Linked DNA regions of Homo sapiens: region 2 is linked to region 1. The links come from fine-mapping of genetic effects on gene expression. A gene starts in region 1. The other region holds a variant in brackets. All regions are shown on one strand. Distances are from middle to middle.

Region 1 (5,386 bases):
AGCTGAACCTGGGCCAGGAAGACGCCCTTTGGAAGGGGTCCAGGTCAAAGGGAAGAATGTGGTTCAGGGAGACAGAATCTGCAGGAGACTGCAGCTGCAAAACAGCAGAGGCCAAGGCAGGTGCTGGAGGTCAGGGCCGTGGTGGGACAGGCAGCAGAGGCCCTTTGGGGCCGAACTTGGATAGCAGAGGCAGTGACAGGCAGTGCCCCTAAGGTGACTCACAGATGGATGAAAATTACTCTTTGGGAAGTTCCATATGTATGTGGGGGATCTTGCAAGGTGCTGTAAGAACAGTCGGGGGCTTGCTGTTTCCAAAATACGGGCCGTAGTGGTCATGCCATTTCATTCAAATCCATAGATACAAACTGGTATGTTGAGGATGTTTGTGATATAAATGTGTGAATCATAGAACAGTTGGAAAGCAGTCATTTACTTATTTTAACAATATATATATACCTTTTAGAAATCTAAATATATTAGCAATTACACAGACATACACACACACACACACACACACATTCCAACAATGCATAGCCTGCAATTAAATGCAAAGGCATTTGCAATTAATTTTAAATTACTTACATATTAATGGATGGTTTTAAGATGATTGAGCACAGTTTGTCCTCAAGCATTTCAACATTTAAACATACTCCTTACCTCCCTCTAATCTTATTTGCACTGTTAATTTGCTTAGCAAATATTCTCTGCTAACATCATTTTTGTGTGTGCTCCTAAATTACGCAACTGTAAAGACTTAAGCTCTGCTCCAAGGTAAATGCCAGACAACTGGAAACCAAAGGAAGGTGTGTGTGTGTGTTGTGGGGTGCATGTGGCTCACCGTTTTCTTAGAAGAGACAGGATGTCCATTGTATTAGGGTTCTCCAGAGAAACAGAATCAATAGGAGACCTTACACACACACACACACACACACACACACACACACACACACACACACACACAGAGCTATTACGAGGAACTGGCTCACATGATTGTGGAGGCTAAGAAGTCCCACTGTCTGCTGTTTTGCTAGCTGGAGATTTGGGAAAGTTGGTGGTATAATTCAGATTCAGTCCGAAGGCCAGGAAACCAAGAGAGCAGATGGTATAAATCCCAGTCAGAGGGCAGGAAAAGATGAGATGTCCCACCCAAGCAGGCGGGCTGGGAGAAAAAAAGGTCAAATTTCTCCCTTCTCTGACTTTTGTTCTACTCGGGCACTCGGTCGAATGGATGGTGTCCATGCACTTTGGGAAGAGCAATTTACTGAGTCCACTGATGCAAATGCTAAACTCATATGGAAACACCCTCACAGACATACCCAGAAATACGGTTTAATATGGGCACCTATAATTCAGTCAAGGTGACACATACAATTAACCATCACATCCATCTAACATGGGCTGGCAAGGCATTGGTTAAATGAGGGTACAGCCCATGTTGGGGAGGAATGGAATCCTCCTGACTAGCCAAGGGCTTTAATCTTTAGTTCTCAACTCTGGCAGCACATCAGAATCACTATGGAGTGATTCGTGAATACGTCTGGGCCTGCGTCAGGAGCCGTGTGACCATCCTGCCTGGTCAGCCACAAAGTTACAATGCTTCCTTCCTGGGTAACCTGCCACCAGGAGCACATGGCACAGCAAGGCTTGGAAGAAGGTGAAACAAGGAAATCACCAGGCGTTCTTCACTCTTTACCTCTCACTCTTTGTTTTGACAATTTTGGCCTGCTGGCTACTTCGTATTTCTGTTTATGAAAAGAGGAAGTCTGACTCTGCCAAATAGGAAAGGAAGAATCGTAATTGTGTTATTGGTGGAGGGTCTTGACTACAACTTGTCCCAGTTCTTGGCGTTTTGAACCAAGAATTGGACAAATTAAACAAAGCAACCAAAGAATGAAGCAACAAAAGCACAGACTTGTGGAAACGAAAGTATACCCCACAGGGTGGGAGTAGGCGCCAGCGGCTCCAGAGCACTGGTTATAGAACGTTCTGGGGTTTAAATACCCTTTAGAGGTTTCCCAGTAGTTAGTTGGTTTACACCCTATGTAAATAAAGGAGTGGCCCACAACCAGTCTAATGGGTTGTGGAAGGTGACGAGTCAGACTGAAGTGAAGTTACCAAGTAATACCCTATGCAGATGTCTGATTGGTTGTAGGAAGGGGACCAATCAGAGGTACTTGCCATTTCTCATCTGCGATGCAGAAAGGGGTGCGGGTTGCAAAGGGAGTAGCCTCTGTTTTTTTGTTACTTAAGCATGGGAAGTTGGAGTTTTCCTTTTGATTCATTTCTAGGAAGTCGGTGCAAACTGGCCCTGCCTCCAGACCCTATTCTCCAGCATGAATTGCATCTCATCAATGTCATTTTCACTTTTGATGATGAAGGCTGATTACCTTGTAGAGAGAGAAGTCATAGGGATGTTATGTCCATGGAGCGTGGCCTTAAGTGGACCTATTTCTTGGGGTCTCCAGATCTGTTTGGAACTTCAAAATTATTCAAGAAAAGGTGTCTCATCAGCAGAAGACTGAACAGTTTTACCTAATGGTATCTTGAGTAGAAATGTAACCTAGAAGAGTTTATTGAAAATCCTCCTGGCTGATGCTTATTTCTTGGAATCCTGAGTCTTACACTTGCTACCTAATAAAAAGAAGGAAGATTCTTCTCAGCAAGGTTGGTTTTTTGATCCTTTATGACACAGAATTGGGAGTAACTGGGGAGAAATATAAAAGGTCTGAGACTAGATAAGGCTGGTGGAGGAATTGAGTGGTATTTCAATCAAGAAAGGGAGGGAACAGCTATATATACGAGAAAATGAAGAAAACAAAATGTTTACATTTTCTTTGTATTGAAATGTTGTCGTGTTCTATTACCCCTTTTGTGGTGTTCAAGAAACTCAAGTACAGATCTTGAATACCTTTGGCTGGACTTGCTTTATTGGCTACAGCTCTGCATTAAGACTGCTCCAGTAGGGTCACAGACTTATAAAAAGCTCTTCAGACTCTCTCAACCAAACAAATCCATGCACTCCATAGATTTGTTTTTTCAATCAATTATTTAGCCCTCAAGGGGTTTTTTATACTCATAAAGTGTAAAAAGTCATTTCAGATCCCTCTACTCATGAAGGAAGGGGAGGGGGGGAGGGAGGGAAGTAGAGGGGGGGAGGGAGAAAGAGATAGGGAGGGAAACAAGGAGGCAGAGAGAAAAACGAAACAATGAGGTTTTGACTTCCCTTGAGCCACTAGGCTGGAGTGCAGTGGTACGATCTTGGCTAACTGCAGCCTTGACCTCCCAGGCTCAAGCAATCCTCTCACCTGAGCTTCCCAAATAGCTGGGACCATAGGTGCACGCCATCACACCTGGCATATATATATTATTTATTTTATTTTATTTTTATTTTTTTTGTAGAGACAGGGTTTTGCCATGTCATGCAGGCTAGTCTTGAACTCCTGAGCTCAGGTGATCACCCACCTCAGCCTCCTAAAGTGCTGGGATTATAGCCATGAGCCACCATGCCTGGCCACAACCAGCTTTAAATAAGAGCTCTGGACAAGAATTAAGCTGGAATTCCCGAAAGCATCCATTGTATGTAATGAATTAGCTGTCTCTTAGGCATTTAGATTACTACCAGTTACTTAGAATTCAGAGAATTGAGAAAATAGTCAAAAAAATAATTTTCTGTGTTCTATGGTTCAGATGAGAGATATTATCTGAAAAAAAATCTAGTTTAGATCAGTTTCTTGACAGTGGCACTATTGACAATTTGGGCCAGATAATTATTTGTTGTGGAGGTTTCTCTGTGCATTGTAGGATGTTTGGCAGCATCCCTGGCTTGTACCCACTAGATGCCAGTATCTCCCTCTCCCTTTCTTTCTCACACACATACACAATCATAATAATCAAAAATTTCTCTAGATTTTTGCCAAATGTCCCTTGGGTGGCAAAATCCCCCCTAGTTGACTAGTCTAAATCCTTGCTGGTCCAGTAGGGTCATAGATTTATAAAAAGCTCTTCAGGCCATCTTTCAACCAAATAAATACATGCACTCCATAGATTTGTTTTTCCAATCAATTATTTAGCCCTCAAGGGGTTTTTTATACTCATAAAGTGCAAAAAGCCATTTCGGACTTTTTGCTGAATAATGATAGACATTAGTGTCTATCAGCTTGAGCATCTCCTGGGAAGCTTGTTGAAATTCTGGAATCTCATGGCCCACCTAGACCTTCTATATCATAATCGGCATTTTAACAAAATCCCCGTGTGATGTGCATACGCACCAAAGCCTGAGAGGCACCCCCAGTTTTGCAAAGGTCTGCTTGATTGAGCCCTGTTGAGAATCTATCATGAGCATACTAAAAGACAAAAGTATAACAAATTTGCTTTAAATATCTTAATTGGCTTTTATTTGCAATTCTAGAATCGGGCAACACCACATTCTATAAAATGAGTGTTCCCATGAGCTGAGTAGAGGAGGTGGGCTTTACAGACAGAAAAAGGCAGAAGAAAGCAGAAACAGTGAAAGGAAAAGCAGACTGGTTGTTTCAAAGTTATTTTCCTTGTATAGTTTAAACCCAGGGGACTTCTTTAGCTTGCCGGCTGAAGTGAACTGGGCCCCTTGAGATTGGTTGCTATGACTCTCCTGGCCTTTCTTTTTCTTTCTTTTTTCTTTTTTTTTTTAAAAACTGGCCTGTTTCAGAGCTCAGTTGGATCAGGTGGCACCTAGCATGAGTGACTCCATTCCCGTTTGGTCTGATTTGCGGGAGCCTAGCACAGGAGGCTAGTCCAAAACCATGGCCTCTTATGAATTTCATTTAACAAGCAAGATATCTTGGCATGCTGTGGGGATAAACTGATAGACATAATCCCAGGTCTCACTGAATAAGTCTGCACTTGTTCAGCTAAGCTAAATGTATTATATGATTCTCACACATGTCCATATGATCAAATAATATGTAGCCAAAAATTATGATGCAGATCTATATTTATTTACATGTATTGATGTTCATAACATATCTTGTTAAGTGAAAAAGCAGATTGCAAAATAGTATATATCACACAGTATGATCTGTTTTGCAGACACAAATTAATTCAAATTATATGTACATAAGAAATATATCAGTGTATATAAACATTCTTTAGCATATCTTGGAGAAAGATTATTGTTGATTTTTATCTTCCTTAAAATGTTTTCAGCATTTTTCTGAATTTTTACAATGAACGCATATTATTTTTATAACTAGAAAAGACAATTTCTTCAATTTTGCAAAAGACGGCCTTAACAGCTACATCTGCTCTGCCTCATAGTCTGTTCTCATAATAAAGAGGTCCAAGATTTATAAAATATGTCTAGAGTATTCCTTTTCTGGCTGAAATCCACCCATTTTTTCACCCAGAG
Region 2 (5,386 bases), 34 kb after region 1:
CACTCCAGCCTGAGTGACAAAGCGAGACCCTGTCTTGGGGGGGCGGGGGGGGGAGAAAAAAACAATTAGGCCGTCCCAAATAATTCAAATTATATATTTTCTTAGGGCGTTGGGGAATCTTATATGTGGCATTATTTAATTAGAGCTCTGAAACAATAGAATGGAAAGAACAATAGATCGAACACTCCTACATTCCTGGAAATACATGGGAGTCTAAACTAGCTTATTCATCTCTTATGGGAAACATTGCAGTGGTTTCTAGGCAGCTGCCATGAACTTTTAACGCTTTCTGGCTGGCAAGAAGCCCCCTCCACCTACTGTACTGAAACAAAGACCTAGGGCCATATTGTACTTCTAAAGCTGTTAGGAAACATGAGGCTAAACAGGTGTAAGTGTTGCTTGTTTTCTGAATGCACTCAGAAGCCCAGTGCTCCCCTGTGCCAAGGGTGGGAGACTATTTATTGGTATGGAAAAGTACAGAGGAAAGAAAAAGAGATGAGGATTCCGAATCAGGTAGTTGTGTAGCCACCTCTGGTATATATTATCACAGTTCTCAGAGAGATGCCCTACTGACCTCTATTCTTGTCCTCACTTTATAACTTGTTCAAGAGCCTATGCATATTCTTCACTAAACAAATATATGTATAGATATAAGCACAATTATTTTAAAGAATTAGCTAAGAACATATGCAAACACATACAAATGTGGTAAGAGACTATAATATAATGATTAAGGGTGTCTCCTTAGAATTAAACTTAGTAGGTCCAAAACCTGGCTCTTCATATACCAGCATGGGACCATGTACTTCCTACATCTGCGCCTTAGTTTCCTCATCTATAAATGGGGAAGAAAATAATGCCTACCTCTGGAATCATTATAACCATTAAATGAAATACTGAGTAAAGTGTTTGACACACAGCAAACATACAATGTTAGCATTATGTGTGTCTACTTATCCATTGGTGATAGAATCCACAAGATCCATTTCAATTGTACATGCTATGCCTAGAGAAAAACACTTCCAACTGAGATAATCTCCTAATTGCCTCTTAATATTTTCTCTACTTTAAAGAGTATTTTTAAAAAATATTTAGTTTATTTTGATTACAAAAGTAAGTCATACTCAAGCTGGGCATGGTGGCTTGCATCTCTAATCCCAGTGACTTGGGAGGCTGAGGCAGGAGCATGCCTTGAGGCCAGGAGTTTGAGACCAGCTTGGGCAACACAGCGAGACCTTGTTTCTGTAAAATTTTTTTTAAGTTAGCCAGCATGAGTGTACGCTTGTTGTCCCAGTTACTCAGGAGGCTTAGCTGAGGATCACTTAAGCCCAGGAGTTTGAGGCTGCAGTAAGCTAAGATTGCACCACTGCACTCCAGCCTGGGTGACAGAACCAGACCTTGTCTCAAAAATAATAGTAATAGTAAAGTCAATCATGCTCAGCAAGAATACTTAGAAATAAAAGAGTTGAGATGGCCGTGCATGGTGGCTCACGCTTGTAATCCCAGCACTTTTGGAGGCCCAGCCGGGCAGATCACGAGGTCAGGAGATTGAGACCATCCTGGCTAACACGGTTGAAACCCTGTCTCTACTAAAAGTACAAAAAATTATCCGAGCGTGGTGGCACACGCCTGTAGTCCCAGCTACACAGGAGGCTGAGGCAGGAGAATCGCATGAACCCAGGAGGCAGAGGTTACAGCAAGCAGAGATTGTGCCACTGCACTCCAGCCTGGGCAACAGAGTGAGACTCCATCTCAAAAAAGAAAAAAAATCAATAAAATAAATCAATAAATAAAGATTTAAGGAAAACTAAAAATTACTATTATTCCATCAGTCAGACATAAGTAATAAAAAATTCACATTTTATGTATTCCTTCCTATATTTTTTCTATACATTTTAACCTGCTTGGGATCGCACTATTTATACAGTTTGTATGTCTTTTTTATACTGAGGATTATGAAATTACTTACAAGCTTCTCATTGGATATGACATATTGACCACATTTGTTCATATCTTCTCCTTTCTAAAATCCATTTAAGATGAGAGTAAAGGAGTTTAAAACATATACAATTACAGGGACAAAGAATGAGAGAAAGACAAGAGCAAGTAAGACTCTGCAATAATTTTTTAGGAGCTCATGGAGAAGCAATGTTATGATTTTTCAGAGCAGAGGCCACAACCCCAAGGTCTGCAGTGATAGATAGGCCAAGAATGACTATTTCACCCTACAGAACTCAGGAAGGCCCAGGACTTGGTGGCAGCAGGTATTACTGAGGGGTGGAATGAGATGCAGAACCAAATGCAGGAGGATTGGTTCATGTCTTAACGTGGAACTAGCTGGATTCTCAGCCCCCTCCTCTCCCGCAGGAAACCTGAAGTTTAGTCTCTAAATAAATTGAACCAGAGAAAATCTGGACTCAGAGAAACCAAACACAGAAGGGGAGGAGGAGAAAGAAACCTGGACATAAATTCAGAAGAATTAAGTGAAATTTTAGGTATGAATTAGACAAACCCTCCCTAGCTCTGTTCCTTCTGCTTCGAAACGCTAACAACTAAATATATACTCCCCAGCCCCCTGCAAAAACAAATAAAAAATGTCCCTGGAGAAAAAAACTTCAGATACTGATATTTGAGGGTCCCCCAACAACAAAAAAAGCCATCTTGTTACCACGTAATCTCCAGTTAAGGAATGACATGTCTAGCATATACACACGGGGCTTTCAACAAAGTTTTTAGTAGTTAGCTCTTAAAAATGAACAGAAAACCAAAGGTAATCTAACCAGGGAAATCCTCTGTGGAAGACGCTGCTAATGTTCTCTCTTCCTGGACACTCCACTAGAGTACATTGTCCAACCTCCTACATCTAGGTGAGGCCATAATGACTGGTTCTTCCCACTGGAATGTGAGCAGAGTGATTGGTGTCACTTCCAAGCCTAGCAGTTTAAATGCAAATATATTTTTTCACTTTGAGAAGATATGGCATCTGCAAACACAAATAGGAAGTAAGGTGTAAGGAAGTAAGGGATAAGAGCAATCAAGAACAGAAGGTCTTGGAAATCAGAAACATGAAGGCTGAATGTGAAATTCAACAGAAGCATTCTACCATAAAGTCAGGAGACTCTCCCAGAAAGTAGAATTAAAAGGCAAATAAGTAGAGGACAGAGAAAAGACAAGAAAGTTAGAGCATCAAATAAGTCCAATGCTTAACTAAGTAAACTTCCAGGAAAAACAGGAAAACGGGGGGAAATTTTTAAAGAAGTAATGAAAAAAATGAGTCACCAGATTTAAGAGGCTCATAAAATTTCCAGCACAATGAAGGCAAACACACCCAGGCCAAAAATATTGTTATGAAACTTGA[GAA/A]CACTGGGAACGAAAAGAAAAAAGCACCCATGGAGAAGGGGAACAGATCAGAACAGATCAGGAATGATATTTACACCAAATTTCACAACATCAATATCGGGAGGTAGACTATATTGAGGAAGGATTTCAAAATTCTGAGAAGAAATTATTTTCTACATATTCTATAACCATGAGAATGGAATAAACATTTTTAGACACACATTGCTTCCAAATACTTACCTTCCATGCACCCTTTCTTAGGAACTGCTAGAGGTTGTTCTTTACCAATGTGAAGGACTAATCGAGAAAAAAGAAAATGGGATCTCTAAGGGACCTAACACGAGGCCCTGGCAAAGGGAAGTGCCAGGTGGACAGCTGCCCCTCAGGCTGAGAGGGCCCTGGGCACAGAGCAGGCAGGTGAAGGACAGGGTGACAGGGAAGGGGTCTCCCAGGGAAAAATGAACTGGTATCTAATATTTGGGCTGTTTGGAAGATAATTAAGATCTGTTTTTTGTTGTTGTTGTTGTTTAAGAGATGAGATCTTGCTCTATCATCCAAGGTGAAGTGCAGTGGCACAATCATTACACACTGCAGCCTTGAACTCCTGGGCTCCAGCACTCCTCTAGCCCCAGTGCTCCAAGCAGCTAAGACTACAGGCCTTAGTCTGGTGGTGTAGCTAGACTACACCACCATGCCTGGCTAATTTTTAACAATTTTATGTAAAGATGTGGTCTCACTATGTTGCCTAGGCTAGTCTCCAACTCCTGACCTTAAGAGATCCTCCCACCTGGGCCTCCCAAAATGCTGGCATTACAGGCATAAGCTACCAGGCTCGGCCTAGAATTTCATTTTTTAAGTATATCAACAGGCACATAGAAAATTTAGCAAAATAATGTCAATGCAATAATTAGAAAAACATTCCACAAATAAGGAAATGTAAACCTTTCTTATTTGGTTTACTAACAAACAATATTTACACAGTAATAATGTAAACATTATCTTTTACTTAAATGAATAATTGTGACATAATTATTCAGAGAATTAAGGGGATGTCATGGGAAAAAAGATTAAAGAGAGCTAAATCTTTGTTTAGCATAATAGGAAGACAAGAATTAAGCCTCAGATTAACAAACCAAGAGAAGGCACTCTTGGTTTAGAAATATGAATGTTTCTGATAGTAGAGACTCAGGAGAGTTGTAAATGTCTGCCTCTGGGGGTGGCATAAACTGGGAGGGAGGAAGGATGGAGCATGAAGTTGCTGAGGTTTGCTATGAGACTTTGAATACAATTGAATTTTTAAAATACGTGTATTTATCAAATTTTAATTTTAAAAGTATTCATGAAATTTAACAGCTACATAATATCTTATCATAGGGTGAACAAATTTATATCCATACTTCTTTATTGACAGATATTTAGGTTGTAACTACAATGTACTTGTTACACATAGAAACTTTACTACAGTTTGGGTTGTTTCCTTAGAGTTGCTACAAATTGAATAATGAGAAAAAGAAGAGAGCATGGTACGATGTTTTATTTATGTATTTCCTTTTATTTCTTCTTACTTATATGTAAAATTATCTTATAAAATTGGGCTGCTAATCTTCACTTAGAGTGGGGCAGGGAAATGCCCACCTTACTGTGCTCTTTTAATATTCTTATTTATAAAAGTGAATTTAATAAATTAAAAAATGGTAACACTTGTTTTAAGTTCCATTTATTTTATTACTACTGAGCTTTCCAATCGTTTTTCCTCCTTTGCGAGTTTTCTGTTCCATTTCCTTTACCTATTGGTTTTTGGAATGTTGGTGTTTTGACTATCAAATTGTGTGACCCCTCTAAATTTGTTTAAAGCTCCAAATATTTCTTTCAGTTTATTGTATTCAAATTAGTTCTCTTTATGCTGTTTTTGACATGAAGATATTTTAACCTTTTTTGCAAGAAAATCTGTAATATTTTCTTATTTTTCTATCACTTTTAAATATGGCAATCCAGATGTTTGAAAAGTATAATATATTTCTTTGTATTTGATATGAGCTGAGTCTCT

Evidence for each region. PIP is the estimated chance that this variant, and not a neighbour inherited with it, causes the effect.
Region 2: its variant is fine-mapped to the expression of LINC02122 in nasal epithelium (TOPMed, PIP above 0.99).

The regions. Positions count from the first base shown.
Region 1 is chr5:74,100,018-74,105,403 of GRCh38, reverse strand. LINC02122 (long intergenic non-protein coding RNA 2122) reads left to right here and starts at 2,276. Exons shown (of 3, transcript NR_183289.1): 1 at 2,276-2,664.
Region 2 is chr5:74,065,862-74,071,247 of GRCh38, reverse strand. All of the region lies in intron 2 of LINC02122 (long intergenic non-protein coding RNA 2122), which reads left to right. Among named protein-coding and RNA genes, the nearest start is that of LINC02122, 35 kb to the left of the region's middle. RefSeq lists an enhancer at 896-1,396. The variant GAA/A (reference allele first, on the strand shown) is at 3,359.